Regions from separate parts of the Homo sapiens genome. Here regions 1, 3, 4, 5, 6 and 7 are each linked to region 2. The links come from fine-mapping of genetic effects on gene expression. A gene starts in region 2. Each other region holds a variant in brackets. All regions are shown on one strand. Distances are from middle to middle.

Evidence for each region. PIP is the estimated chance that this variant, and not a neighbour inherited with it, causes the effect.
Region 1: its variant is fine-mapped to the expression of EIF4E3 in prefrontal cortex (BrainSeq, PIP 0.95).
Region 3: its variant is fine-mapped to the expression of EIF4E3 in whole blood (TOPMed, PIP above 0.99).
Region 4: its variant is fine-mapped to the expression of EIF4E3 in whole blood (TOPMed, PIP above 0.99).
Region 5: its variant is fine-mapped to the expression of EIF4E3 in whole blood (TOPMed, PIP above 0.99).
Region 6: its variant is fine-mapped to the expression of EIF4E3 in whole blood (TOPMed, PIP 0.98).
Region 7: its variant is fine-mapped to the expression of EIF4E3 in whole blood (TOPMed, PIP above 0.99).

The regions. Positions count from the first base shown.
Region 1 is chr3:71,775,884-71,779,942 of GRCh38, forward strand. The region is part of intron 2 of PROK2 (prokineticin 2); the gene reads right to left. Among named protein-coding and RNA genes, the nearest start is that of PROK2, 7.2 kb to the right of the region's middle. The variant G/A (reference allele first, on the strand shown) is at 1,682.
Region 2 is chr3:71,723,118-71,727,184 of GRCh38, forward strand. It overlaps EIF4E3 (eukaryotic translation initiation factor 4E family member 3), which reads right to left and starts at 2,285. Exons shown (of 7, transcript NM_001134651.2): 1 at 2,075-2,285. The coding sequence starts at 2,250. RefSeq lists silencers at 1,690-1,809, 1,940-2,009.
Region 3 is chr3:71,786,825-71,790,891 of GRCh38, forward strand. No RefSeq gene overlaps it. Among named protein-coding and RNA genes, the nearest start is that of PROK2, 3.7 kb to the left of the region's middle. The variant G/C (reference allele first, on the strand shown) is at 1,907.
Region 4 is chr3:71,754,105-71,758,171 of GRCh38, forward strand. It overlaps GPR27 (G protein-coupled receptor 27), which reads left to right. Exons shown (of 1, transcript NM_018971.3): 1 at 1-2,392. The coding sequence ends at 1,073. It also overlaps a transcript of EIF4E3 not described here. Among named protein-coding and RNA genes, the nearest start is that of GPR27, 2.3 kb to the left of the region's middle. The variant A/G (reference allele first, on the strand shown) is at 1,989.
Region 5 is chr3:71,803,621-71,807,687 of GRCh38, forward strand. No RefSeq gene overlaps it. Among named protein-coding and RNA genes, the nearest start is that of PROK2, 21 kb to the left of the region's middle. The variant C/T (reference allele first, on the strand shown) is at 1,816.
Region 6 is chr3:71,681,439-71,685,505 of GRCh38, forward strand. It overlaps EIF4E3 (eukaryotic translation initiation factor 4E family member 3), which reads right to left. Exons shown (of 7, transcript NM_001134651.2): 7 at 1-3,290. The coding sequence ends at 3,244. Among named protein-coding and RNA genes, the nearest start is that of EIF4E3, 42 kb to the right of the region's middle. The variant A/G (reference allele first, on the strand shown) is at 2,091.
Region 7 is chr3:71,809,460-71,813,526 of GRCh38, forward strand. No RefSeq gene overlaps it. Among named protein-coding and RNA genes, the nearest start is that of PROK2, 26 kb to the left of the region's middle. The variant A/G (reference allele first, on the strand shown) is at 1,748.

The sequences.
Region 1 (4,059 bases), 53 kb after region 2:
CCCACAGAGTCTAGGAACTCCCCGAAGGGCAGAAGATGACCAACTCAGATCCCAAGGCTCCCCTCACTGCCCTGCCCAGCTCCGAGCAGGCAAAACGTAACTCACACCACCAAACTCAGAGATGGACTCACCATGAAGCCCAAGAGGCCGAAGCCCCTCTCATGTATAGGCCTCTAATCCAGGACCTAGGAGGGACCCTGGTAGTGTGTTCACAAGGTCATCTGTTTTTGTGAAACTTAAAAAAAATCTTTGTATTATTTCTTTAAATCAAGGACACCAAGACTGTATGAACATCAATCTGGATCTGCCTTGACTGACCCTAACATAATGATTACACTGAACTGCAGGGTCCTTAATACTTAGGTGCTTTTTTCTCATTCAAACCCAGTTCACTCAGTTCTGTGAGCTCCTAACGACAAAAACCATGATTCCTTTTCTCTTTCTTTTCTCTCTTCTTTTCTTTTTTTCTTTTCGCTTTTCATTTTTTTTTTTTTTTTTTTTTTTTTTGAGACAGAGTCTTGCTCTGTTGTTGTGCCCAGACTGGAGTGCAATGGCATGATCTCAGCTCACTGTAGCCTCAGCCTCCCAGGTTCAAGTGATGCTCCCACCTCAGCCTTCCACGTAGCTGGGACTACAGGCATGTGCCACCATGCCCAGCTAATTTTTGTATTTTTAGTCGAGACAGGGTTTTGCCATGTTGCCCAGGCTGGTCTTGAACTCCTGGCCTCGAGTGATCTGCCCATCTTGGCCTCCCAAAGTGTTGGGATTACAGACGTGAGTCACTGTGCCTGGCCAAAAACCATGATTTCTGATATTATACACTCGGTAGATGCTTGTCCGTTTCTTGACTGGCCCACTCACTTCTAGATCTACAGATACTGTGTGACAAAGCTAACAGGCGTCTCATAATCACAAATGCAAGAGAAAGTGCTTACAGAAGATGCACACTGGAACCACTTAGTCCAAACTTCATGGTTTACTTTAGAATCAACCAACACTTAATGCAAAGTTTCCAATAGCCTAGAATTCCAAACAGCAAATTCTAGAAGTTACCGAGGCAGAACATCCAGCACTTTGAGAAAGCATGACTTTTACTCTTTTGCAGCACTTTTAAAGAGAAATTAGCACTTATAAAAGGGCAACATGAGGGATCCTTATAGTGATGGAAATGTTTTGTGTCTTAACTGTATCAACGTCAATATCCTGCTTGGAATATTGTACTATAGTTTTGCAAGATGTCACCATTGGGAGAAACTGGGCAAAGCGCATATAGTACCAAAGTTGAGAAACCTGTATTAGACTAAAGCCTATTTCTGTCTTGTAAGTCTTTTTGCTGAACTGAACCTATAAACACTGCTATGATGCTATCCCAAGAAATAATCATAGACAGTAGCTCTTGACATTGTGATAGGAAAGATGAGAAAATCAGCATATTATGCTTTCTTCCCCATCTTTTGCTAAATTTCTAGTTGCATTAGTTATATTTTAGTATTTTAAAATTTTTTTACTTTAAAAAATATGTAAAAATTTTAATGACTTCATATTCTGAAATTATGTTTACAATGTTTCCTCATAGGTTGGTTCTAAAGTAGAAACCACTAATAATTTTTTAAATATCAAGTTAAAAAAATAAAACAAGTACCAGGTTTTTATTTGAATTTTTTTCCTTCAGAAAAGGAAG[G/A]AAAGTGAAGTTTTTAAAAAAACCTGGTGCTAAAAATGTTCACATAAAAAGCGCAGGAAAATTTAAAAACAAGATTGTTTGAAGGAAACATAGTTGTTTAAACTGAAAAAATTCAGAATACAATAAGCAATAAAGATTAAAGTATTAATCACATAATTATTGAATACTAAAAAGTGTTCAAAGCTTTCAAAGCTAAACATTAGTCAAAATGGGAAGGAAATGGCTAATCTTCTATGTAAACTTTGGAAAGTTACCGGCATTAATAGAAACCTTGTTGTTTTGTCTTTTTTTTTTTTTAAACAGAAAGTTTCTTCTAAAGGCATGATTCAGTTAAGTCATTCTTAAGTGTTAAAAAATTGTGAAAAATGTGCCTGTAATCCCAACACTTTGGGAGGCCGAGGCAGGCAGATCACGAGGTCAGGAGATCAAGACCATCCTGGCTAACAAGGTGAAACCCCGTCTCTACGAAAAATACCAAAAACATTAGCCGGGCGTGGTTGTGGGCGCCTGTAGTCCCAGCTACTTGAGAGGCTGAGGCAGGAGAATGGCGTGAACCCGGGAGGCGGAGCTTGCAGTGAGCCGAGATCACACCACTGCACTCCAGCCTGGGTGACAAAGCGAGACTCTGTCTCAAAAAAATAAATAAATAAAATAAAATAAAATAAAATAAAAAATTTGAGAAAAATGAATACCTGTTAAAACTATTATTTGCTTTAAAATGTATTTAGAAAATATGCATACTATGCTTCCTAGGTGAACTCATATATCTCACATATTTTATTCTATCTTAAAATTATCAAACATAAAGTTCAAAACTATACAATTATAAAACAATAGCCTGTCAGGGACTGTAAACTGTACAAGTTAATTGGTACATGTTAAATAAAACAGCAAACTGAACTCGGTAGCTATAAACTCCTATCTATGGTTCTCAGTTTCAGTCATCAAATACTGTTCACTTGACCCAAATAAACGGATTTTCGGTGGCTAATGACTAAGCTGAAACAAAATGAAAAAAAAAATTCTATATAGGGTCTACATTTTTACTATCTACTAATGAGTCATTAAACTTCAGAGCATAATTGAATACTGTACATAATGTTCATCAGTATGTATTGAGGAAAGACTTTTTTCTTGAGTTGTTTTGAACAGACCATACAGCTGAGAGATATTCTGGAAGAAACTAGATCTTTTTCTACAATAGGTAAATTTCATCTGGAACAAGTACAACTCTAGGATCTTCTCTTAAAATAGGTCATCAAAATAACCTTTGAAAATGTATTTGAAGATAAAAAAGCAACCAATATGAAAAGTTAGAAAATAAAATTCCAGAAATACATTTCAAGTGAACATCTGAAAACCATACTCTATTATTTAAAGATTTCATTATTGGATCCATGATAAAAACAGAACCAAAGAGATGTAGCCAGGCTTATGCAAGAAGACTGCATTTGTTTACTTTCAAAATTAATCTTGGACTAAACCTGAAATTGAAGTTATCTAGGAACTAGGGAAATAGAATTCGGTTCTCTTTTAAATATTGCAGAGGATTGGAACACTCATCAAAACTATCGGACGACACAAATTCCCATTCTGAACTGTTATCACTCATTCCAGTGATCATTTTGTCTCTGTTATCCAAACAAACCAGTTTTGGTTAATTGGACTACAAAGTGTTCAAATTAAACCCAACGACTGCTTTCGCGGAGGCAGAAGCGTGTAATGATTAAGACCACATAAACAACAGAGTGTCACAAAGAATGAAGTTGAGTGTCTCTTGTTTACTCACAGCCTGTGTTGCTGAACCCCTCTGGGGCTTAATGTTGTATACAGGCTTGCTGTATTAAGTAAGAAGTACATATACAACATTTAATATAGAGGATCTGGTACATCACAGTATTTAACAAGGTGCAATTATGATTGTTATTAACACAAACATAGTTCCATGGGATATGTCACTTTTCCCTTGTTTCAGTAAACAGGCTATGTGATTCTAGCATCTAGGGCATGTGAAGCTGTACTAATACTGCATGAAAACAACACAATTTTTCTTTTTCCAGACAGAGTCTTGCTCTGTCACCCAGGCTGGAGTATAGTGGCAAGATCACGCTCACTGCAGCCTGAAACTCCTGGATTCTACTGATCCCCTCCCCCACCTCAGCCTTCCTGGTAATTAGGACTACAGGTGTGTGCCACCATGCCCAGCTAATTTTTAAAAATTTTTCTATAGAGACGGGGTCTCACTATGTTGCCCAGGCTGGTCTCAAATTCCTGGGCTCAAGCAAACTGCCTGCCTCAGACTCCCAAATTGCTGGGATTACAGTGTGAGCCACTATGCCCAGCCAAAAACAACGTAATTCTTAAAGGAGAAAGTTAAG
Region 2 (4,067 bases):
TGGCTATGCTGCAGGTAAGGCTGCCTTGGAGGGCTCTCCTGAGAACCTCACCAGTCTCTAGAATGTTGTTTACCTGGGGAGAAAAGTTACTAATGAACTTCTAGATCATAATGTGTTCATAACCTCAAGGGGGAGAGGGGCACCCTATATAAAGGTAATGGATTCCCACAGAAGGAGAAAAAGTTCAATAAAAATTATGAGTTGTTTGATCGGGCAAAATGAATTCATATGTACAATATTGGAACTCATTATAATTTCTAAATTAATACAGCCATTTCTATTAAAGATCTGGACACTGTGGCAATAATGTATTTCATTTGATGATCGACCTTTAGAGAACAAAAATGTGTAAATCAATAGTATAGATATAGTTTTTGTCTTCATTAAAGTTACTATAATCTTAAGCTACTAGTCTTAAAAGATTGTGTTATCTGTAGTATTGACATTTTAGACCAGTCCTTAAAAGTGTTGTTCCTACATGTAAACTAATTTTAGACCTGTTTAAAAAGAAACTCTCTTGATACTGTTTCCACCAGTCAGCAGTATTCACAATTTAGACCACAGGTCCAGGTTTAACACCTTGAAAACAGATACCAGGTAACAATAGCACAGTTGCAGCACACCTATGAAAACAGACACGATTTCATTCTGCTAAGGTCTGCCAAAAGCACGCTTGTTATGACAGTATAATGCTCTCTTAGCATCCCATAATGAAAGTGAAAATGTTTTGAAAGAACGAAACTCACTCCATCTCCCCCACCCCCAACTTTTTTGGGTCTCCGGCAAAGAAAATGGCAGCAAGTGACAATTCTTATAGACGGGTGCTATAAGAACCCAAAAGGAAAAAAGAAATGAGCTTGTCTTAACCAAAAAAAAAATGAATATCACTTTTTTAAAACAAAATCTTGCAGTCATTTTATGCAAAGCCTTTTAAAACCAGATTTGTGTGTACCAAGCAAACTTCTCAGAACACTGTCACACATTTCTTCCTAACACTTAGCCAGAATAGACACGGTTTCATCAAAATTTCCAAATGCTCTTGGGACAACCTTGAGGTGTCATCATTGGGCACCCACTGCAGGGCAGACACTAAGAAGGGGCTTTGCATTCATCCATCTATTCATTCATAACAATTTCTGGTGTTCTTACTAGGGACCAGGCACAGTTCTAGGTCCAAAATGTCCAAAAACAAAAATCCACTGCTCTTTTATCCTTAACTGAGGGGAGGTGTTGAGGAGCTGGGGAGACAGACTGAAAGTAAACAAATTCATATATAATAAAATCCAGCTGCATTAAGCATTAGGAAGAAAAAGAAGGCAGGGCAGGAGAATACAAAACGAGGGAGCAAGGTTTCTATTTTAGATACGGTAGTCAGGGGGTCTTTCTGAAAAGATGGCACCTGGGTTGTCCCTTGAGAAAGCCATAATTCACCCCCTTCCTGACAAGGTCAGCTGCTGCTCATTATTGAATCTCCAGCGCATAGCAGGTGTGTGGCTCCACTGTAGGTGTTCAGGAAATACCTGCCCAGTGGATGAGGAAGAACTGGAAGAGGAGTCCACGGCAGCAGCGGCCGGACACGGGGTGGGAGCGCCCGCCGTGCAATAATCATTGCACCACCGCACACCTCCCAAGGGATGGGCAACTTTTCCGAGCGCTGTCACAGCTGAGGTCGTGTCCTGAGCTCCCAGGCGCCCCGCGGGGTAAGCAGGACAGCCCTCTCCCTGCAGCAGGGACGCGGCCACCCCCAGCTCGCCTACCCTCTCCCACGGCCCTGCCAGCACGCCGCGTTCCGATCGGAAGGGAACAAGGGGTAGAAAGTGTTGCCGAAACTTTTCGGGCTGCGCTGTCCTCCCCCGGCCCGGAGGCGAGGACGCCGAACAGCCGCCCGGCGCGGCCCGAAGCTGGCTTCCGACCCGGCGGGGCGAGTCCCGGGGTGCGCAGGCGGACGCGCGGAGGGGCCGAGGTCTGTGCCACAGCGGAGCGGGGCCGGGGCGAGGGGCCGCGCCGAGACAAAGCGGCGGTGGCGGCAGGACCCGGGTCGGGGCCGTGCGCGGCGGGCCCCGCGCCCCCTCACCTGTCGAGCCAGAAGGTCCAGGACGAGTGCAGCGGGACCCCGCCCGGCTCAGGCTGCAGCGCCGACAGCTGCTGCAGGCCGAGCGGCGGCTCGGGGGCGGCGGCAGCGGCGGCGGCGCGGGACCCCGGCGGCTCCCGGGCCCCGGCGGGGGGCGCGGCGGCCGGGGGCAGCGCCATTTTCTCCGCCCCGCCTGCAAGGCCGGCGGACGCGCGGACCGCGGGGCGAGCGCGGCTGAGTCACCCCCGGCCCCCGCCCCGCCCCGCCCCGCGCGCCCCGCCCCGCCCCGGGCTAGCCGCCCGCCGCCCGCCGCCCGCCGCCCGCCGCCTTCAGGGCCTGGGAGCCGCGCGGAGGGGCCGTGGGAGGCACGGCCGGGCCGGGGCCGCCGAACAAAGACAGACCCACGGAGGGATGGGGGGCCGATCCCGCTCAGGCGCGGGCCCAGCGTGGGAGACTGACGGCCTGGCCTGGAGTGGCGGCCGGGGACGGGCTAGAGGGCCCACGGGGGTGAGAGGGACCGGGGAACGGTCTGCGGGCTGGCTCTGCAGCCATGCAAAAGGGCAGCGGGATGGAGCGGCAGGCTAGGGACAGATGGAGGGATGGATGGGACAGGGGATGGAGCCCCAGACCCACGTGGTGCGAGGGAAGGAGGGATGGACAGACATACCAGCAGTCAGAAGGATGGAGTGAAGGCTGGCAGATGGCTGGAGGAGAGAAGGAGGGATGGAGGGCAGATGGAAGCACAGTTGGGTGTGACAGATAAATGGAGAGGGGAACCGATGGCCAAATGGATAAAGAGACTCCAGTGCCCGCGAGTACAGAACAAAGGGCGAGAAAGAAGAACGAACAAGAGAACCACCGACTGGGGCATGAGGTTGGAGCAGGTGGGCTTTGCATTCCTCTTGGTGAGAGCATACTTCCTAACTCCGCTGATTTGAAGGGGCCAGAGCCCCCATCCCAACCTCTGGAGCTACCATGTGACCACAGTGAAGGCCTCAAGCCTGGCTTAACGTGTGGCTAACTTCAGAGAACATTTCCCAAAATCAGCCAAAGTATCCAGATCTGCCCTAAAGCACCGGCGAGTCGGGAGGAGGAAAGCGGGCACCTGTGAACACAGAGCGCTCTGCTTCCTGTACCTCTGAGCACCCAGGAAGTCCCTTAGGCGGTGAGATTCCTGAGCCCAAAGTAGGAGGGGCCCTCCTAACACAGCATCTCCCCAGGTCTCTGTCACTTTCTTTTTCAAAAGAAAAGCAAAGGCATGAGGCCTGTGAACACACATGTCACAACCAGCATGGACATCCTCTTTACACTTGAATTTCTAGATAGTTCCTCTCTGGCTTTGAACAGTGAAGGGCGTGGGATGCCATCTCCTCATTGACCTTCTACCTGGCCTAGCATGTGTTCTGTTCATGCCTTGAGCATTCGCTGGGATGGAAGAGCTACAAAACAAGATGAGTTCAGGGGCATCAACAGCATCATAGCAGACTGTCATGAATCCCAGAGTAGATGCCCTCCCTAAAAGGTAATCAAGGTCACATAAAGTGACAATAATAAAAACAAGACCGCTGCTTTAAACTTAACTTCTATACAACATACAATGCTGGAAGCAATGACAGATTTTATAAAATCTGTCCAACACTAAAACAGGGGAGGGTGCTTTTGGTTAGATGCATTTATCTTGTTGCTTAATATCTCCTTTCATTTTTCCAAGAAGCGTGGTATATGGCATTGTTTAAACTGCTCTGAGCACTTTACCCGTAATAACTCATTTAATCCTTACAATAAGCCAATGAGGAAGATACTATTAACCCATTTTACAGATGAGGAACAGAGATAAGATTAAGATAACCCCAAGGTCACAGAGCTAGTAAGTGGGACAGCTGGGATTTGAACATAGGTATTCAGACTCCAGAGTCTAGACTTTCAACTGCCAGACTCTCCTACCTCTCTACACAGAACACTAACAAGTCCACAACGTAAAAACAAGCTGTGAATA
Region 3 (4,067 bases), 64 kb after region 2:
TTTTAATGGTCTATTTCATATTCGCTACTATTGAATGCCAGCTTGGGTATTCCCTGCTTCTTCAAGCATAGAAAATATGATATGTCTACACAGGAAAAATCAGATTTCAAAAGTGGCTGGCTTCTTACACAGCTGTTTGGAAAACAGTCCTCATAAGGCTGTTTTGAAACAAGTTTAAAAAAAAGAAATAAGTTTGGAAACACTTAAAAATAGGGTTGTTTAGTTTCATGTTCTTTTGGAAATTTTAATTGCTTTAATGCTTTAGGAGAGAAATGAAGGCTCTTGATATGTCATCTTTGTATCTGAGGCCAAGTTTGAAAAATGAAGTCTGACTTCAATTGTTATAAAGGGAAAAATGAAAAAAAAAAAGAGTTTGGATTAGTCCATTAAAAAAGGTAGTTGGGACAACTTAGCAACAATGACATAGAAATGAAACAGTAGTTTATTGATTCTTTTCTATTACTGTAACCTGTTGATATTGCCACATGATCACTTCTGCCCAGGCATAACTGTATTAGGTGAAATGAGCCTTGTGTGTGTAAAGTGTAGCCTACCATATTCCAGCAGACCATCAAGGCTCAGCTTAAACGAAAATGCAATCTAGGAGCGTCTATAGAACCCAATGTTTGTGAGACAGGCTGATCAGGATTGGAATCCTGTGTGACCACTGGGCAAGTTACACAACCTTTTGAAGCCTCTGTTTCCGGTCTTGTAAAATGGTTATAAAATACCAACCTCATGGGGTACAACCCCTATGGAATTTAATAATACCTGCAAAATGCTTATCACAGTGCCTGGAACAGACTGGGAGCTCTGTTAGGGTTACCTCTTATTAAGCCTTATTATTTGGTCTCCCCTGACAATTTCAGCCAATGCTGATATAAGTCTTTTCTGTCCTGCCCACTATATTAGATTGTACACTTTTCATGATTAGGATCCTTGTGTCTAATTTTCTATGCATCCCTCTTGGCACACAGCACGATAATAGGCATATGGCAGGCATTCAGTAAGTGACCAGCAACAGGAATATGTCCCATGAAGGACAGTCCAGAGACAGTTACGAGAAGATCATATACAGTACAGACTCATGTCATGTATATGAATCCGTTAAAGGTAGTCACCAAAAAGCAAGAGAGATGGAAGCTTTACCTGGTGCAGATGATTCAGCCTGTCTCTTTACTTGGGGGCCACGTGACTGAAATGAAGTGAGCTGGGAGACACAGGCCTGTCTCACGGCAGTCAATTTGGGACTCAGGCTGACTGATAAGGCTCCATTTCAACATGTGCTTCATGATTGCCAGTGTAGTGGCCTATACTGTGACCCCTAGCAAGTTATTTTCAAGGCCTAAGCCCTGGTACCTGTGGACGTGACCTTATTTGGAAATAGGGTTTTTGCAGACGTAATCAACTTAAGATGAGGTCATGCTATATTAGGGTGGGTTCTAAATTCAATGGCTGGTGTCTTCATAAGAGAAATGGGAGGGAGAGCTGGATACAGAGACACAGGCTAGACTCCCCCCACCCCACCCCCCCCACACACACGGGAGAACATCAAGTGAAGATGGGGGCAGAGATTGGAGCAATGCTTCTACAAGGCAAGGAACACCAAGGATTGCCAGCAGCCATCAGGATCTGAAAGAGCAAGGAAGGATTCTTCCCCAGATCCTTCACAGGGAGCACGGCCTTGTCAGCCCCTTGGTTTTGGACTTTTAGCCTCCAGAACCACGAAAGAATAAGTTTCTATTGTTTTAAGCCACCCAGTTGTGGTGATTTCATTATGGCAGACACAGGAAACTAACATAGTTGGGTGCAGCCAGAGGGTTGTACACCAGCTTTCTCTGCCTGGAATTCATGCCTGTCACTTTTGCTCACTTTTTAGTGACCAAAACAAGCCACATGACAATCT[G/C]TCTTCAAGGGGACAGACAGTGCAAGTCTGTCACTGGTTTCTGAAGACAACAAGGTATCAGGTGAGCAGTGCTATATTCTACAGGAAATGAATCATTCATGGCTTGGACTCCTTAATGAGCATAATGAACTTTGAATTATATTAGTAATTGCTATTATAAATAATAATGTGTAATTTCCTTTGTATTTTTTCTAGTACAGCATTCTTTATACCAGAATTATACAAAGACTCTGAAAGTGAGTAAATGTGTAAGCTAATATTTTCTTTTAGGTGGGTAGAAAACCATAATTTATTCATTCAACAGGTATTAACTAAGACTTACTATATTCCAGATATTGTGTGCAGCATTGGGGGTACGAGGGTGAGCAAAACAGACATGAACCCAGCCCCCTGGGAGCTTACCATCTCATGGGAAGATGCACATGAATCAAATAATCATACAACTTTATAATTACAGAAGATAAATTTAGGGTCACTATGAGAGAGCATATGAGGAAACCTGAAGCTTTCCTTACAGTTCTGGAATATGGGATGAGAGCTGAAGGTTATGCAGAATTTAACTGAGGTGAAGAATGAAACAGGGCTGGGTGCAGTGGCTCATGCCTGTAATCCCAACACTTTGGAACGCCGAGAGAGGAGGATCGCTTGAACCCAAGAGTTCCAGACCAGCCTGGACAAAACAGGGAGACCCTGTCTCTACAAAAAAATTTAAAAAATTAGCCGGGAGTGGTGACGGGCGACTGTAATCCCAGCTACCTGAAGAATCAAGGTGGGAGGATCACTTGAGCCTGGGAGGTCAAGGCTTCAGTGAGCTGTTATTGTACCACTGCACTCCAGCCTGGGTGATGGCGAGACCCTGTCTTAAAAAAAAAAAAAAAAAAAAAAAAAAAAAAAAGAATAAAACAGCAGACATGGAGGATGGCTGGGCATTCCAGACAGTGCAGACAAAAGGGTAGCTAATGTGGCCCAAGGAATGTGCCTAAAGCGAAGTCTGGAACAAATACGGAGCCAGAGGGATGGCAGGGATCCTTTGCAGGGTCTTATGTAGGCCACACTAAAGATCTTGGTCTTCATGGTTGGTCGGGGAAGGAGAAAAATCATAAGAATGGGGCAAGTGTGACATGAGCAGCTTTCATAAGGAAGACCTCCCTGCAGTGTGACTCAACCTGTCCACATCCCAACACCTTCTGGCAACCCCCAAACCCCTTTCACTGAAGGCAACTCTATCCTTCCAAAGATGACCCTGGAGTCATCTTTGACCCTTCTCATTCTCTCACACCTAAGACCCATCTGTCTGAAAATCTTGTTGCCTTTTGAAGGCAAATCTACTTTATATTATTATATTATATTATATTATATTATATTATTATTTATTATAATATAATTATATTTGTGATAATGTAATATTTTATATATAAATAAATACAAAATAAAATAAAACAGAATATATTTTAATAATAAACCCTCTGTCATGCTACCCTTCTTGTTCTGAGCCCCTGTCACCTCCAGCCTGGATTACTGTCACTGTCATTGCCTCAAGACTGGCCTCCCGGGTTCACCCTTGCCCTCTACATTCTATCATCAACACCTATTTTTTTTTAAAGTAAGTTAGACTCTTTGCTCTAAACCCTGCAGTAGTTTCTCGTTTCTCTCGCAGAGACCTTCAGATCTTTGACTTTGTTTACTACTCCTACCTCTTGTCTTCCTGCCAGCTCTGCTCCTGCCACACTGCCCCCCTGGAGGTTTCTAGAACACTCAGGGCATGCTCCCACTTTGGGAAATTTGTCCTGGATCTTCTCCTTGTCAGACTGCTCTTTCCCCAAATAGCCACATGGCAGACTCCCTTGTCACTTTCGAATGTTTGTTCAAATCTCACCTTTGCAAGGAGGCCTATCCTAACCACCCTTATTTACATTTGCAACTGCCCCAGCATGCCAGTTGCCTTTTAGTCCTTTTATATTTCACTTTTCCCTAGCACTAAGACCTTCTAGCATATTCTATTACATATTACGTTTTATCTTTGTTGCCTTACTGCCCCCACCTCCCCACACATACACCAGAATCTAAGCGCCACAGGATAAGGGATGTTCAGAAACTTTGTTCTGTTCACTAATTTATCTCCAGTACCTAGAAAGATGCCTGGCACATAGTAGGCACTTGA
Region 4 (4,067 bases), 31 kb after region 2:
GCCTCAAGCTGGCCACGCTCAGCCTGCTGCTGTGCGTGAGCCTAGCGGGCAACGTGCTGTTCGCGCTGCTGATCGTGCGGGAGCGCAGCCTGCACCGCGCCCCGTACTACCTGCTGCTCGACCTGTGCCTGGCCGACGGGCTGCGCGCGCTCGCCTGCCTCCCGGCCGTCATGCTGGCGGCGCGGCGTGCGGCGGCCGCGGCGGGGGCGCCGCCGGGCGCGCTGGGCTGCAAGCTGCTCGCCTTCCTGGCCGCGCTCTTCTGCTTCCACGCCGCCTTCCTGCTGCTGGGCGTGGGCGTCACCCGCTACCTGGCCATCGCGCACCACCGCTTCTATGCAGAGCGCCTGGCCGGCTGGCCGTGCGCCGCCATGCTGGTGTGCGCCGCCTGGGCGCTGGCGCTGGCCGCGGCCTTCCCGCCAGTGCTGGACGGCGGTGGCGACGACGAGGACGCGCCGTGCGCCCTGGAGCAGCGGCCCGACGGCGCCCCCGGCGCGCTGGGCTTCCTGCTGCTGCTGGCCGTGGTGGTGGGCGCCACGCACCTCGTCTACCTCCGCCTGCTCTTCTTCATCCACGACCGCCGCAAGATGCGGCCCGCGCGCCTGGTGCCCGCCGTCAGCCACGACTGGACCTTCCACGGCCCGGGCGCCACCGGCCAGGCGGCCGCCAACTGGACGGCGGGCTTCGGCCGCGGGCCCACGCCGCCCGCGCTTGTGGGCATCCGGCCCGCAGGGCCGGGCCGCGGCGCGCGCCGCCTCCTCGTGCTGGAAGAATTCAAGACGGAGAAGAGGCTGTGCAAGATGTTCTACGCCGTCACGCTGCTCTTCCTGCTCCTCTGGGGGCCCTACGTCGTGGCCAGCTACCTGCGGGTCCTGGTGCGGCCCGGCGCCGTCCCCCAGGCCTACCTGACGGCCTCCGTGTGGCTGACCTTCGCGCAGGCCGGCATCAACCCCGTCGTGTGCTTCCTCTTCAACAGGGAGCTGAGGGACTGCTTCAGGGCCCAGTTCCCCTGCTGCCAGAGCCCCCGGACCACCCAGGCGACCCATCCCTGCGACCTGAAAGGCATTGGTTTATGAGGGAGGCCCCGCCACATAGACCCCCAACCCAGCCTTTCCCTTTGGCTCGGACGGTGACGTTGTATCTTTTCCTTCTGGCCCCTGTTTAATTTTCTAAGCTGCCTTCAAAATGACTCGAAGTGGACAGACACTTGGATTGTACTGACTCCTTTGGGGGTGGGGTGGGTGAGGAGTAGGATGCTCAGCCCACTCCAGCTCCGCACATTCGTCCTCCTAACTCGACTTTCTTCCTGACAATAGGCCCTGCAGTCTTTTTGTAGCGGTACTGACGTCTTTTATTCCATGTGTGGTTCCTTTTTTTCTTTTTCTATAAAGGCTGTACTAATTTTCTTCATGCAACGTTTCCTAAAGACCATGGCCAGTTTTCTACAGAAGCTATTTTTGACAACCTCAAGTGGCATTACATTTTGCAGTGAAGTAGAGGAACCTAGGGGGACTTCTTCACAAGTTAGATTTCTTGAGGATCTTCTGTTGGAAGCAGGAGAAAGTGGGGGGTGGGGGGAAGTTGTCCGAAATGCCCTCTGAATTGCCGGCTGCAGGGTCCTTGTGCTGCGCTGGTTCTTTGAAAGTCTCAGTGTTGATATTGAACTTAAAGAGCAGAGATGGAGATCAGTAGCAAGGCAGTCATTTTTTTAAAGCAGTAAGTAACAAGTAAGATTTGGTTCCCGGTTTACTTTCTGCTGCTAAAAACCACGTCAGTGACAACTGCTCTCTGTATTATAGCAATCTTGAATGGAAACATTTCTGTCAAGTTGTAAGTTTTAAAAGAGTAAAGTGTTTTGGTTAGTAATGATGTGGAGAAAAATACAGTATTGCATGTGTTCGTGTGTATAGATTGTGGTTCGAGGATTGGGAGGGCTCTGAGAAGCAGAGTACTACATCAAAATTGTTTTAAGTATTTTTTGCCAATAAAAA[A/G]TTAATTTTATGGAAATGGCTTGTGCTTTGAGAAGCCCAGTTTTATTCTGTCTTATGAAACTAATTTCCACTTTGAAAATTGTTCTTCTGTTGTTTATGGTATAAATGAATGGAATATAATGATATCCTCCTTCTAGGAAACAAAGCATTTCCTTAAAATGTTTGCTAGGTTAAGCTGTGCTGTTCTACTGATGGTTGTTTTAAATTAATAATGAGAACTATAATTTAAATAATATTTCTTTGTTAGACATTATAATGTTAAACTGAAAGACTAAATTCTGCAAGTACTATATAATATTTTTGGCTTATAATGCTACATTTTTATTAATGTACCTTCCGTTTTGAGGATTTATATCTGTATTTCTCTTTGCATTATACAAATATACCAGTATTTTCATTCTGGAGTGGTTGTTTTGTTGTGGTGGTGGTGGTGTTTGAGGCTGTAATAATACATGCGTCGAAGTATGTTACATGCCTCTAAGTATGTTATGTAAGGATAACATGCTCTATGATCCTTTTAGCACGTGTTCTTCAGTTACAGGTTTCATAGTTTGACCATCAGCATATCCAAGAAAAGTGGAGGCTTAATTTAAAATGCAAGATAAAATCTGCGAAACTTTTCTTTAAAGGGAAGAAGCAGTAGACATATATACGGCTTTAAAACTGTTTTTTTATTTGGATGACAACATTTCAATGACTATTCGTTAAATGACATAAAAAAGCTTTTAAGTAAACATATCAAACTCAAGTACAAGCGATCATTTTGATAAAAGTACTAGGTAAAAGTGGGGGTGGTAGATTATATTGAAATTTAGCTGAGTATAATATAAACTATTAAATGTTCAGTCCAATGGGAATAAGTTATAAAAAGAGTGTGGCCAATTTAATTGATCTCTGGTAAATAGGCTGCATGATTTTATTTTGTTGTGGAAGTTAATCAGTCTGTGAAGACAGTCTCACACTTGGAAAATATGAGACAGTTACCCTATTTCTCCCCACATCATGAATCCAGGTTGGCCTCAATCATCCAAGGGCCACTGATCGGAAACCTCAGCCAACCCCAAGATAGAGGAGCCCAGAAGTACCTCTCTCCTCATCTAACCCTCCACCTGCCCAAGTGATCTCAGTTCCAAATAGAGGTCGAACCAGTCTACGATGGCTCATGCCTGTAACCCCAGAACTTTGGGAGGCCGAGGCAGGAGAATTGCTTGAGACCAGGAGTTTGAGGCCAGCCTAAGCAACATAGCGAGACCATGTCTCTACAAAAAATCAAAAAATTAGCTGGGTGTGGTAATGTGCACCTGTGGTCACAGCTACTGGGGAGGCTGAGGTGAGAGGATGGCTTAAGCCCATGAGGTCAAGGCTGCAGTGAGCCATGACTGTGCCATGGCACTGTAGCCTGGATGACAGAGCTCTCGAGACCCTGTCTCAAAAAAGCCCCCAAAACAGAGATCACCAAGTCTCTGTGATTTTCCCACCTGGCATGGCACAGGAACCAGCCCATCATGGCTGACTCCTGAGCCACTCCAGCTTTGGGCAGCAGCTCAGCTGCACCAGAGGTGACGTGTTGGCCTGACATAGCCTTGAATTCAAGGGATATTTTGTCATATGAGAATTCATAAGCCAGAGGTTCTCAAATTCTAACATTCATACAAATTAAGTGTCTGTGTGATCCAGAGTCTTATGAGGACATGTTGAGTTGGGTCCTGGGGAAAAGCATTTCAACAGGTTCCTCAGGTGGTTGGAGACAGACCTCCAGGACTTCGTTCAGACATGATTTACTTCAGACATGATGCGTTCAAACTTGGCTACCTGGGTTTTTTATTTTTATGTTTTAAAGTTCTGATTAGATGGGGGAAGGCAAGATTTCTAGTGAGTGTGCAGGTGAGAGTAGCAAGAAATAACAGCCAACTAAAGGAAACGAGAACCAAAAGAGCCAGAGAAACAAGCTATGTAGCAGAAAGTGGGGAGGTGCAAAGGGCCACCCCAACAGCTTTTAGGATTGGTGAATCTATTAACATGTACTTTGATAGTTAATTACATTAATCAAAAATTATAAAAAAAAAAAAAAGGTTAGTT
Region 5 (4,067 bases), 81 kb after region 2:
TCTCCAGAGCTCCCTGCAGGATCAGGTGGAGTCTGGCCTTTGGTTTGAGATCGCCACTCTGGTGGGCTTCTTCCTCTTGCTTTGCCGTGTTCCCCTACTCTTACTTTGCCCAGTGTTCCCAGGAGACCCTGCCTTCATAAATCATTTTCACAAAAATCTTTATCTCTGAGTCTGCTTCCGGGGACCAGACTATGCCTTTTTAATTCACCCAGTGCCTAGCATAGCACCTGACACATAGTGGGAGTTTGAAAACTTCTTCAAGACTGGTTGAAAAATGCATAATATTAAACCCAATTAAACAAACAGTCCTGTTGGAAAGACACTTTTGAAGCCAGTCAAATTCAGATGATTCAGTAACAATTAGTAACATAGGTTTGATTCTTTTTATTTTTTTATAAGACAGAGTCTCCCCCTGACGCCCAGGCTGGGGTGCAGTGGAGTGATCTTGGCTCATTACAATCTCCATCTCCTGGGTTCAAGCAATTCTCCTACCTCAGTCTCCTGAGTAGCTGGGATTACAGGCGTGCACCACCATGCCTGGCTAATTTTTTAATATTTTTAGTAGAGACAGGGTTTCACCATGTTGGTCAGCCTCGTCTCAAACTCCTGACCTCAATGATCCACCTGTCTTGGCCTCCCAAAGTGCTGGGATTTACAGGCGCGAGCTGCCGTGCCCAGCCTTACATAGGTTTGATTCTATCTAGCAGAACTCAAATTCAAAATAACCTGGTGAAAGTTGAATACTTAAATTTAAGGTCACAGATCACTACAATATGACAGGGACCAGGCATTTTTAGTGTGTACAATTCTTCTATCAGCTTAGGTTCCTGCTCAGAAATCTGAAAGTCTCGCCCCACTACATGCCACAAACCGTTTTTTTTCCTTTTTTTCTTTTCTTTTCTTTTTTTTTTTTTTGGAGACGCAGTTTCACTCTTGTTGCCCAGGCTAGAGTGCATTGGCATAATCTCGGCTCACTGCAACCTCCATCTCCCAGTTTCAAGCAATTCTCCTGCCTCAGCCTCCCGAGTAGCTGGGATTACAGGTGTGCAGCACCACACCTGGCTGATTTTTGTATTTTTTGTAGAGATGAGGTTTTGCCATGTTGGCCAGGCTGGTCTCGAACTCCTTACCTCAGGTGATTCACCTGCCTTGGCCTCCCAAAGTGCTGGGATTATGGGTGTGAGCCACCAAGCCCAGCCAAACCCTTATTTTTTTTAAGGAGGTTGTGCACACTGGTTCCCCAGAAGCAAAGCATCAGGTAATGTTAACTTCGGTTATTGCAAATGATGGCTGGAGGTCTGGGGAGAGGGATTGATCATACTGGGCACCTGCATCTCCTGTGCAAATCTCTCCTGGGGCCTCAATGCTTACGCAGTTTGCTCCATACACCCTTGGTTTGAGTGGACCCTCCCCTGGCTCACAGGCTGCCTTTCATTGTTCTGGGTGCTCTCAAGCAGTGATGCCACTGTGGGGCATGGTGCCTGACCCCTAGAGCAATGCCTCCTCCAGGCCCCAGAGAGCTCTCCCCTGAAAAGTCAAGGCTTGAAAGAAGGAAGCCTGCCATTGGCTGAGAACTGGAATTATTACAACCCCCAATGCTGGAGGTGGGACTTGCGGGAGGTGATTGGATCATGAGGGCGGGTTTCTCATGAATGGTTTAGTACCATCCCCCCTTGGTACAGTATAGCGAGTGAGTTCTCACAAGATCTGGTTGTTTAAAGCTGTGTGGCACCTCCCCCATTTCTCTCTTCCTCCTGGGGTGGCCATGTAACATGTGCCTGCTTCCCCTTCACATTCTGCCATGATTGTACATTT[C/T]CTGAGGCCACCCCAAAAGCAGAAGCCAGTATGCTTCCTGTAAAGCCTGAGGAATCATGAACCAATTAAACCTCTTTTCTTTATAAATTACCCAGTCTCAGGTATTTCTTTATAGTAGTGCAAGAACAGACTAATACACCCATTCTTGACTTTGGAGTTAGATTAGACTTCTGAAGTTCAAATCTCGACTCTGCTACATTCAAGCTGTGTAACTTTGGGCAATTCACTCAATCCCTCTCAGCCACAGTTTCCTATTTCTCGAATGTAGTTTCCATGAGGGACTGGGTCTTGGTCTTTTCCTGCTGTTGCTATATTCCCAGTGACAAGACAGTGCCTGAAGTATGGTAGGGGCTTCATAAGTATTTTCTGAGGAAATAAATAAGGGTATTTGTGAAGGCTGATGGAAATGATGGGTAGTATCTGGCACAAAGCAATCACTTAATAGTATCTGAGTGACTATCTGGCACAAAGCCAGATCTGGCACAAAGCAATCACTCAATAAATGCTAGCTATAAATATATAAAATATACATATGAAGATGTAATTTTATTTTATTTCTTATATCTGGTAACATAGTTTCTAACCACAATGTAATGTGTTAGAATTCATCCTCTCTCATGCCTGTAATCCCAGCACTTTGTGAAGCTGAGGCGGAAGGACTGTTTGAGCCCAGAAGTCGGAGACTGCAGTAAGCTGTCATCATGCCACAGCACTCTTGCCTGGGCAACAGAGTGAGATCCTTTTTCTAAAAACTAACAAAACAAAACAATTATTTCCAAAAATTTAAAACTTAAAAAAAATTAAAAATTGAGAAGTTTTTTAAAATATGAAAAAAGAGGCATCTCCATATTTTCTGAGAGCAATAGTACATTGGTGAACACTGATTGCCCCGCATCCATTCACTTGTGTCTTTCTTCCTAACACAACTCCGATTCTGACCAAGTATAGCTTAGAAGAATGTGACCCGAGACTCTAGAAGTAAATCTTTTTTTTTTTTTTTGAGACAGAGTTTCACTCTGTCGCCAGGCTGGAGTGCAGCGGCACAATCTCGGCTCACTGCAACCTCTGCCTCCCCGGTTCAAGCAATTCTCCTGCCTCAGCCTCCCAAGTAGCTGGGACTATAGGCACCCACCACCATGCCCGGCTAATTTTTTGTATTTTTAGTGAGACGGGGTTTCACCATGTTGGCCAGGATGGTCTCGATGTCCTGACCTCGTGATCTGCCCACCTCGGCCTCCCAAAGTGCTGAGATTACAGGCGTGAGCCACCGCGCCAGGCCAGGAGTGAATCTTAAGGAGGCTATTGGCATGTGCCATTCCCCCATCACCTGCCTGCATGACTCATTGGTCCTGTGACTAGGACTGGTTCAATCAAAATGAAGGAAACATTTATATTACACACTTGGAGATGTGGTTTTTCCATTTTTGACCAGGTAGTTGAGAACAAAGAAGTATGTAGCTCCAGTTGCCACTGACAACTGTCTTGTTATTATGAGGCACTTGGAAATGAGGCTTACAACATCATGAGAAAGACGGAGAGAGTCAGTTATCTGACGACATCTTTCAGCTACTGATGGTGCCACTCCTTCCAGTTAGGTAAGATAATACATTTCCTTACTGTCTTATTTTTTATTTATTTATTTTTGAGACAAGGTCTTGCTCTGTTGCCCAGGCTGGAGTGCAGTCGTGTGATCTGGGCTCACTGCAGCCTTGACCTCCCAGGATCAAGTGATCCTCCCACCTTAGCCTCCTGAGTAGCTGGGACTACAGACGTGTGCCACCACGTCTGGCTAATTTTTGAAGTGTTTTATAGAGATGGGGTTTCACCATGTTGCCCATGCTGGTCTCAAACTCCTGGCCTCAAGCAACCCTCCCTCCTCGGCCTCCAAAAGTGCTGGGATTATAGGCATGAGCCACTGAGCCCAGCCATTTCATTATTATTATTATTATTATTATTATTATTATTATTATTATTATTATTAAGACAGGGTCTCATTTTGTTGCCTAGGCTAGAGTGTAGTGGCAGCAAGAGGGCTCACTGAAGCCTCAACCTCCCAGGCTGAAATAAGCCTCCTGTCTCAGCCCCTCATGTAGCTGGGACTACAGGCATGCGCCACTACACCTGGCTAATTTTTGTACTTTTTTAACAGATAGGATTTCACTATGTTGCCTAGGCTGGTCTCCAACTCCTGAATTGAAGCCACCCACCTGCCTCGGTCTCCCAAAGTACTGTGATTATAGGCTTGAGCCACC
Region 6 (4,067 bases), 42 kb before region 2:
TTCAAACTCCAAACCCCAGCACCACTTCTGTCTCTGAGAGGGAGAGGGAGAGAAGGAGGAGCTGTTTACAAACAGGATGTCTGATTACGGAGTTACACCAGTGGCCAGATTGGATCAGATATTTAATGCTTGATTAGGGTGGCTAGTGGGCAGGTTAAGGCTGGCAGATTCTGAGTACTCTCCATTTAAGGACGCCTGCACCGGGATACAACTTGCCGACTTCAATACCCAGCTCTGTGGCTGGCTAGCCCTACGTCTTTAACAAGGGACAAGTTCGGCCAAGGCTCAGTTGGTGGATTGTATATTATGTCTATAGGACCCAATTATACCTAAAGTTTCTAAGCTATAAAGTCTTGTGACTGTGTGCATGGTGTAGACATGGGCTAAACTCAAGAAGAGGGGTGAGAAAGAGTCATCTTAATCTTTAATTTAAAGTTTATTAGAGTTGTGGTTTCCTTTTCATGTTTTTGCTTCATAAAGTGTACCACGAATCTAACAGCAATATTATATTAAATGTACATGTTTGCAGTAAATTACACCCTCATTTAAGAAATGTGGAAAAGTTGGGGGGAAAGAGGAAATCTTAAAACTGAGTTAAGTCAGCAGTTCAGCAAGTGCTTACGAAAGACAGTCAAAATATAGGCAAGTTACTTTAAATGGGTATTATTTGTCCTTACTTTCCCAATGTAGGCAAGTGCCTGTGATATAACAATTTAGGGAATAATGGGAGAATAAAAAGCATATTAGTTTCAATCAGATTTCCTGGCATATATCACAGACCCTAAGGAATTACAAAGACAAAAAAGCAAGCTCTTTGGTTTCTGCATGGTTCTTTGCAGACTACAAGGCTGCCCCTGCAAGCACTTGGATGAAAAGACCGGGATTCTACTGGAAGTTTGCACTTTCCCCACATCAGCCAAGATGGGTAAACTGCCTTAACACAAAAGTCACATGCCCCACAAAATATTTCCTTCTATCTCAAAACAGTATTAGCTTCTTTAATCTAAGAAGGTAATGAGAGGTTTTTAAACTGATTAAATCAGCTTAGTTCATACAAAGTCTATTATGATTAAATATTCAATTAAAACAATTTCCAAACCAAAATCTGACAAAATCCTCTCTGAAAGTAATTTAGATGATAGGTTTTTAACATTAGGCAAATTAAATCCTTCTCACAGTTGGTATTTTCTAAAGGGTCAGAAACAGTTGCAGAAGTTCACTGGGGCAAAAATCTACTTTGTGTGCTAGTCATGTTCCATGATCATAAACAGAAACTAGAAATATTAACGTGAGCCTAACATTCCTATTTATTTTTACTTCAAAGGCTACATACATGCAAAAGTTGAACATGTCATCACAAATGCTTTAAATAAAGTTCAAAAAATAAAAATACTTCAAAATCCATTTACTTATGGAAATATACATGACAATTAGAGTGAAGTCAATTATATCCTTTTTTCAATCAGAAAAATACTTATATTATAAAAAAGTTTTAATTCATGTCCAGAATAATTTTTTAAAATTCTTGAGTCATAATTTTAAAACAAGTTGAATGTTAGTACAATGTTTGGAGAAACAAGTCCTAGGCTTTTGCTAACTGGATCTGATATTCTTATACTTCATTTTGAAATCACTAAGGAAACTCAAGTTTAGGGAAAAAAAAAAAGCATTTTAAGAAACCTATGATGGTAAGTATTATGGCTGAGGTGGTTACTAACCAAGTGAAGGGCACAACTTCCATAAGCAGATAATGTTCAAAGTCCTTTAAAATGTTTGAATGGAGAATTTTATCTACAAACACATAGTGGAGGCTTAAAGTAGCCTCAAGTCTCTCTGCTGGTCAACACTGCAAGAGGAATTAAAAATCCCAGGTACAGTGAAGTTCTGAGTGCACTGCCCTTTTGAAAAATGTGTGAGCAGGCACTAGCTCCCGTGACTCCAAAGCCGACTGGGGGAAGTGTCTTCAGATGGCCCTGCCCTTTATCAGGCAAAAGCAGCCAAAGGCTTGGCAAAGTCAGGAGAGGGAAATCAGCGTATTCTGAGCTAGTCTCCATGGTCCAGAGGATGACCATTTCCTTCTAATAAAACCA[A/G]TATTTCTTTGGTAGCATAATACAATATATATCAACAATCCCAATAATTCATATGAGCAGAATGCACTCAAAGTTCAACTTTGTAAATGTTCACATGCATCCTGGAAATGAGATTTAACTTCCTGCACCTACATGAAAAAGGGTGGGGACAGCTGCCCAGGCTGGAGGACTACTGATGATGAGAAATGACACACAATGTGAGCAGGGAAAGGGATCATTTAACAAAATGTGTTAGCGTTGACTGGGAAAGAAAGCCCTAAGTGGGTAAACACACCCGAACTTTGCAAGGAGCTTAATTCAAACAATTAAAATATCACCTTCTCTTTAAATCAGAAACATCAGGTTTCCTATTGGAAGAAATCCCTTGCTACCACTCTAAGCCTTTGGTTGAAAAGGCCAAATTAAAATTCGGGTTAGAAATGTTTCCACAGAGGGTCCAAAGACTTAGAGCTTGATTTATATCCTGATACTGAATTGTGATTATAGTTTTCATGTTATGCAATCCAACTATTATTTTCCTTTTATCACTAAAAAAAAATGTTTTAAAAAGGAAAATTAAAGATTTGTGTGCTGTCAGTGCAAAATCACATTAAGTATGGTTTTTCTTTTCCCTGGGACAGAAAAAAACAATGCCCAGCTCACAGTACATAGGAATGTGTCACAACAAATAATCAGAAGACAGATTTCTCCAAGCTAGTGTTCCTCCTTGTACAGTGTGGTATTCAAAAGCAGTATTGTCACGATTATGCATATTCTCATTAACTAGGTACAGCAGAGCTACTTAAAGGGAAACCCATTTCTTGTGCCTCAATGAAAGGGGAGTGTAGAAAACAATAATTAGGCTGAATAAGGAATTTTAAACGGCAAAAAAAAAAAAAAATCAGAGTGAAAAGAACAGAGAATTTAGAAAGCCAAAAAAAAAGTTTTTTGTGTGTGTTTTTTTTAAAAAGCAAGTAATGTGACGGTAGAAACCCACACAATCTCCCCCCACCCCACCTGCCACTTTGAGTCCTAATTGCCCATCTGCAAGGACAGAAACCCACTCTAAATTGACCAGCATCGGCTTCGGCAAGTCTTCTCTTCACTCTCCCTCCTGTTAAGACCGTTTCCAAAACCAATCAGCAAAGGACAAAGAATTCTTTACAGAGTGCAATTAGTGTTTTCCACGTCCACCTTCAAAAGCATGATGCTCTTCATGGGCTAAAGGACAGAAAAAAAACAAAAAAGAAAAAAAGGAAAGAAAACTTTAAGCAAAGGATGGGCCAACCCTCCTCTAGGCATCTCATTCAGCTTCCCCAAATGTTGGCAAGAACTCAAACACCTTATTTATTTATTTATTTTTTTGCCAGTAACTGTTAGCTAAGGCGTGCATTTCCTGAGAAACGTAATAATGAAAATTAAAACAAGGAATAAACAAGCAATGGGCATGCTGCCTGTTTCTTCTTGCTGTGCCTGGGAGGATGAGTCATCTCAGCAAGCCGATGAAGAGAGTATGTTGGGCTGCAAGCAAATGCCGCAGGGGAAAATGTGCCCCACAAAATGCATTGCAGGGGGTGGGGAGAGGGGGTGCCTGACACAACCCAAGACAGAGCCGCTTACAAGCCTATCTTTAAAAATAAACTAAAAATAAAACAAAACAAAGAACCACACCAGGGTGACAGCAATTATATCTAGGTGCCCCTGCTCCCTACCTCTCAACACTCTCCATGGGAAATGAAGTTTCATAAAATTGCTAAGTTTTATTTTTCCAAATCAAGTTTCCCCCTGCCAATAGATATTCAGACCTATCATCTGGCTTGCAAAATTACTAATTTTAATTAGGAACTCTAGAATATATATATATTTTTTTGAGACGTAGTTTTGCTCTGTAGCCCAGGCTGGAGTGCAGTGGCGCAATCTTGGCTCACTGCAACCTCCTCTGCCTCCCAGGTTCAAGCAATTCTCCAGCCTCAGCCTCTGGAGTAGCTGGGATACAGG
Region 7 (4,067 bases), 86 kb after region 2:
CCACACTTCTGGGTTGCAGCATCTGGTGCTTGGAGGCTGCCCAGGAAGCCAGATGTCATGCTCCATCATGCGACATTTCATCCCATTCTGGAAGTGGAGGGATGACTCAAAGCAGAGGTTGGTGTGTAGACTCAACCGGCCCACGGCTTCAACTTGGGCCCCAGGCAGCTTGGGATGTTCATCCATGGCCAAGCTGAGCTTCTTCAGAAATGAAGAAATTGAAAGAATCTGCAATGGTACATAGGTTAATGTCCGATAGTCTTTTTCCCTGAGAGAAGCTATAAAGAACATCAAGCCTAGGACAGCCCCAATCAGATGAAGAGCTCAGACGGTTCATCCTGGCTGCAGGGTGGAGATGGATTGAAATTAGCAAATCTGAAAGTGTGTCTGTCACCCTGTGGCCTGGTCTAAGGGAGTAAGAATGAGGATGAAGCCAGGTGGATAGATCTAAGCAATATTAAGGAAGTCAGTTTCACTGTATTTTGTAATTAAGAAGATGAGAAGCGTGAGGGAGAGGATGGCACCTGCTTTCTGGCTTAGGCAGCTGAGGAGTAGATGGTGGTGCCACTTTCTGTGATGGGGAATGGTTGAGTGGGGTGCGTGGAGACTAAGTGGGATGCTGAGCTCAGTGTTGAACTAATTGAATGTCAGAAGCCCAAGGCACATCCAAGGAGAAGTGTCCTAAGGCAGTTGGTGGCACTAGTCTGGAGTTTGGGAGCAATGCCTCAGCTGGAGACAGTTTTTGAGTCACTGGAGTATATGTGGGTAATGCAGCAGGCATGAGGGATGCATAAGATGCCTGAAGGCGAATATTTTAAAAAGAAGAGAAAAGGGTAGAGGACCCAGCCCTCCTGGGCTCCTCAGTGTGAATGCATAATTAGTACACTACCAGATGAAGGGAAGATTCCAGAAGATGCAGAGAAAGCACGGCCAGAGGTGACCCCAGGGCAGGAGCAATATTTTGGTGAGTGAGCAACAGTGAGAGATGTGCAAAGGAGTCAACTTAGGAAAAGCGTGAGAGATGTTCAATGAACTTAGACATGAGGAGGTCTTTGGTTTCCTCAGGAAGGGCAGCATCAGTAGCGTGGTGGAATTTGGGGTGAGTGGAAGCAAAATGTAGATAAACCATTAATCTTTTATGTAGGGATTACTTATAATTCAAAGCAGTTACTGTAATTCAGAATGATACAAAGGTAAATAAATTATAGAGCAAGTAAGCATTCCAGTAGGTTTTAACCCCTTATCCTGCTTTACATTTCTGCATAGCGTATTTGACAACTTGAAGTGATTGTATTTGTGCCACTGGTTGCTGTCTGCCTCTCCTATAGAAGGAAGAACCAATCCCAGCACTTTGGGAGGCTGAGGTAGGTGGATCACAAGGCCAAGAGATCAAGACCATCCTGGCCAAAATGGTGAAACCTTGTCTCTACTAAAAATACAAAAATTAGCTGGGCGTAGTGGTGCGGGCCTGTAGTCTCAGCTATCCAGGAGGCTGAGGCAGGAGAATCGCTTGAACCTGGGAGGCGGAGGTTGCAGTGAGCCGAGATCGCACCACTGCACTCTGGCCTGGCAACAGAGCAAGACTCCATCTTAAAAAAAAAAAAAAAAAAAGGAAGAGAAGCATGAAGGCTGCAGCTTTGTCTTGTTCACTCCTGCAGCCGCAGTGCTTGGCCCAAAGTGGCCAAAATGTTGGTTGAATAAATGATAGAGAGAATCTGATGAAAATACATAAATTAAAAAAGAAATC[A/G]TAATTTGAGCTATATATGTACAGGCTATTTACAAAATAATTATAGATAAATGTTCAAATGAAAAAGAGGAAGCTGTGAAGATGACTGTAGGACATCTCTTGTTTTCAGCCTCCCAGATCTTCTGGTAATTTAAGTGGAAATTGATAATACTAAAAGATTGTCATGAATTTCAAAAAGGCTTTTCTAATCTACAACTCCCCTGTAGACTTTTATAAAGAGATTTCTGTATAAAGATTTTGACTTTTATAAAGAGATTTTTGTTACCAATTAGATGCTAGACTGGAAAGTAATCAACTTAGGGAAAAATATATAAATATAAATGTGTATGTGTGTATTTTTTTTCATGATTTTAATCAACTAAGAGAAGTAGAGTTTTTACACTAATTTTGAAGGTTGCATATTTAGAATCTTGCATTTTATTAAAGGCAATATCATAATACTTAACATCTATGCCAGAGACCTGCTTGGTTATATTATATGAAGAGAGGCATGCTTTTTATGGAATCATTTCTAAGGAAGTGGACATTGAAATGACAATTCCAAGAAAAATGCTTTCCTTTGTCTAATTTGTTTTTACCCCTTCTTTACAGGTTTTTTATGTTACCATGCTTTAGCAGAAGTCAATTAATCATATATTTTAAATAAAATGTTTCATAATTTACCAAGACCAATTCTGTCAGTAGCACAGTATGCTAGATGTGTATTCAATTTAGATGATGGTGAATCCTGATCTCTAAACCCTGTGGTTTCAGTGATAAGGATGGAGTGTGCAAACATGGAACATGGAACATCTTCTTAAAAAGTTAAGGGACAGTCTTCTTCATGATTTCAGTGGAAGTTAAGATGGAAAGGGTACCACTTAAAGTATCTTAACAGTGGAAGGAGAAAAGCAAAATTCACAGCATCAGAAACGTTCAGGGAAATTCATTTGTCCTTGAATAAGTTTCACAAATATAGATGTGAAATGGTTAAGAAGCAACATTCCAGTTTTGGGTAAGTTAGGCTGCAGAAACAAATATAACCCCAAGTCTTAATGGCTTTCAACCACAGAAGTTTATTTTTAGTTCTTATTATATGCCTGAACTGGCTTTAGAATTTCACCTCAGTATGACAGAGTAGATTTCTAAGAGCCTGGCCTGTTCGCAGGCAACAGCTCTGAACTCCAAACAAAATACTCTGGAGAGCGAGCAAAACCAGGCAGATTTTGGGAGGGAGTCAAAACAGGGAAGAGGGATTATCAGAGGGTGAGTTTCCCATTTTCATGACTTCAGTCTGAGATTGGGCTGCAGACAGCATGGATGGGCAAAACCCACGAGAACATCTGCTCTTTTTGGCCTGAAGAACCAAAGGTTCTGGGGCAACCGCTGCTGCTGGAAAGTGACGAGAGAATCCCAGAGATGAGAGCCAGGGCAGAGGAGCCTCAAAAGCCTTCTGTGCATAAATATTGCCCCAATTCCTGACACCTGAATGATCTGCGCATGGGGCAGACTCAAAGCAGCTTGTAGGTCAGGCTTAGAGAACAGAATTGAGATCTGAGCTGCGGCCCTCCATACACAAGAGAGAACTCCTAGTTTGAGCCTGTCTAAGTTAATTGCCTGCTAAAACAAAACCATCAACATTCTTTGTAAGAATGTAACAGAATCAAGAGTTTCTACAACATAACCACAAAGAAGGCAGGGGAGGAAAAACAGGAACAAAAGATGGCAGGGTGGAGGGGCAGGGACAGAAAACATACCAAATAATATCACTAACTGAAATCATATGGATATTTACCTCAGATATTAATATTGCTTCTATCACAGCAGAGGGAGAAGAGCAGCAAGGAAAGAGGATGATGGCCCTTAAGGCCTCTGTTGATAAGTAACAGCAATCGTTTTCACTAGCATTTCCTCAAGTCCCAGGTCTGGGCCTGACTTGCAGTCATGGGGCAGGAAATGATAATCGATTCACAGGGATAATCGATTCACAGTGAAACTGCCATCATCTGGTAGATTGTATCATTATTCAAAAATAAATTATTTATTCAAAAATTATTTATTCAAAATTTATTCAAAAATAATTATTCAAAAATTATTTATTTTTGAATAATAATACAATCTATGTACAATAAAAAAGAAATAATTTTTGAATAAATAATACAATCTACCAGACGATGGCAGTTTCACTATTAGGAAAGAGTAAGTACTTATAGAGTCAATGACTTCTGCATAATGAGAAAATTTTTAGAGAGTATTTGCTCTCCTGACAAAATCCAGTGTTATCTATGTAACCACAGCCAGCTCAGCAGCCAATTGCCTGGTTGATCCATACCCCTTCTCA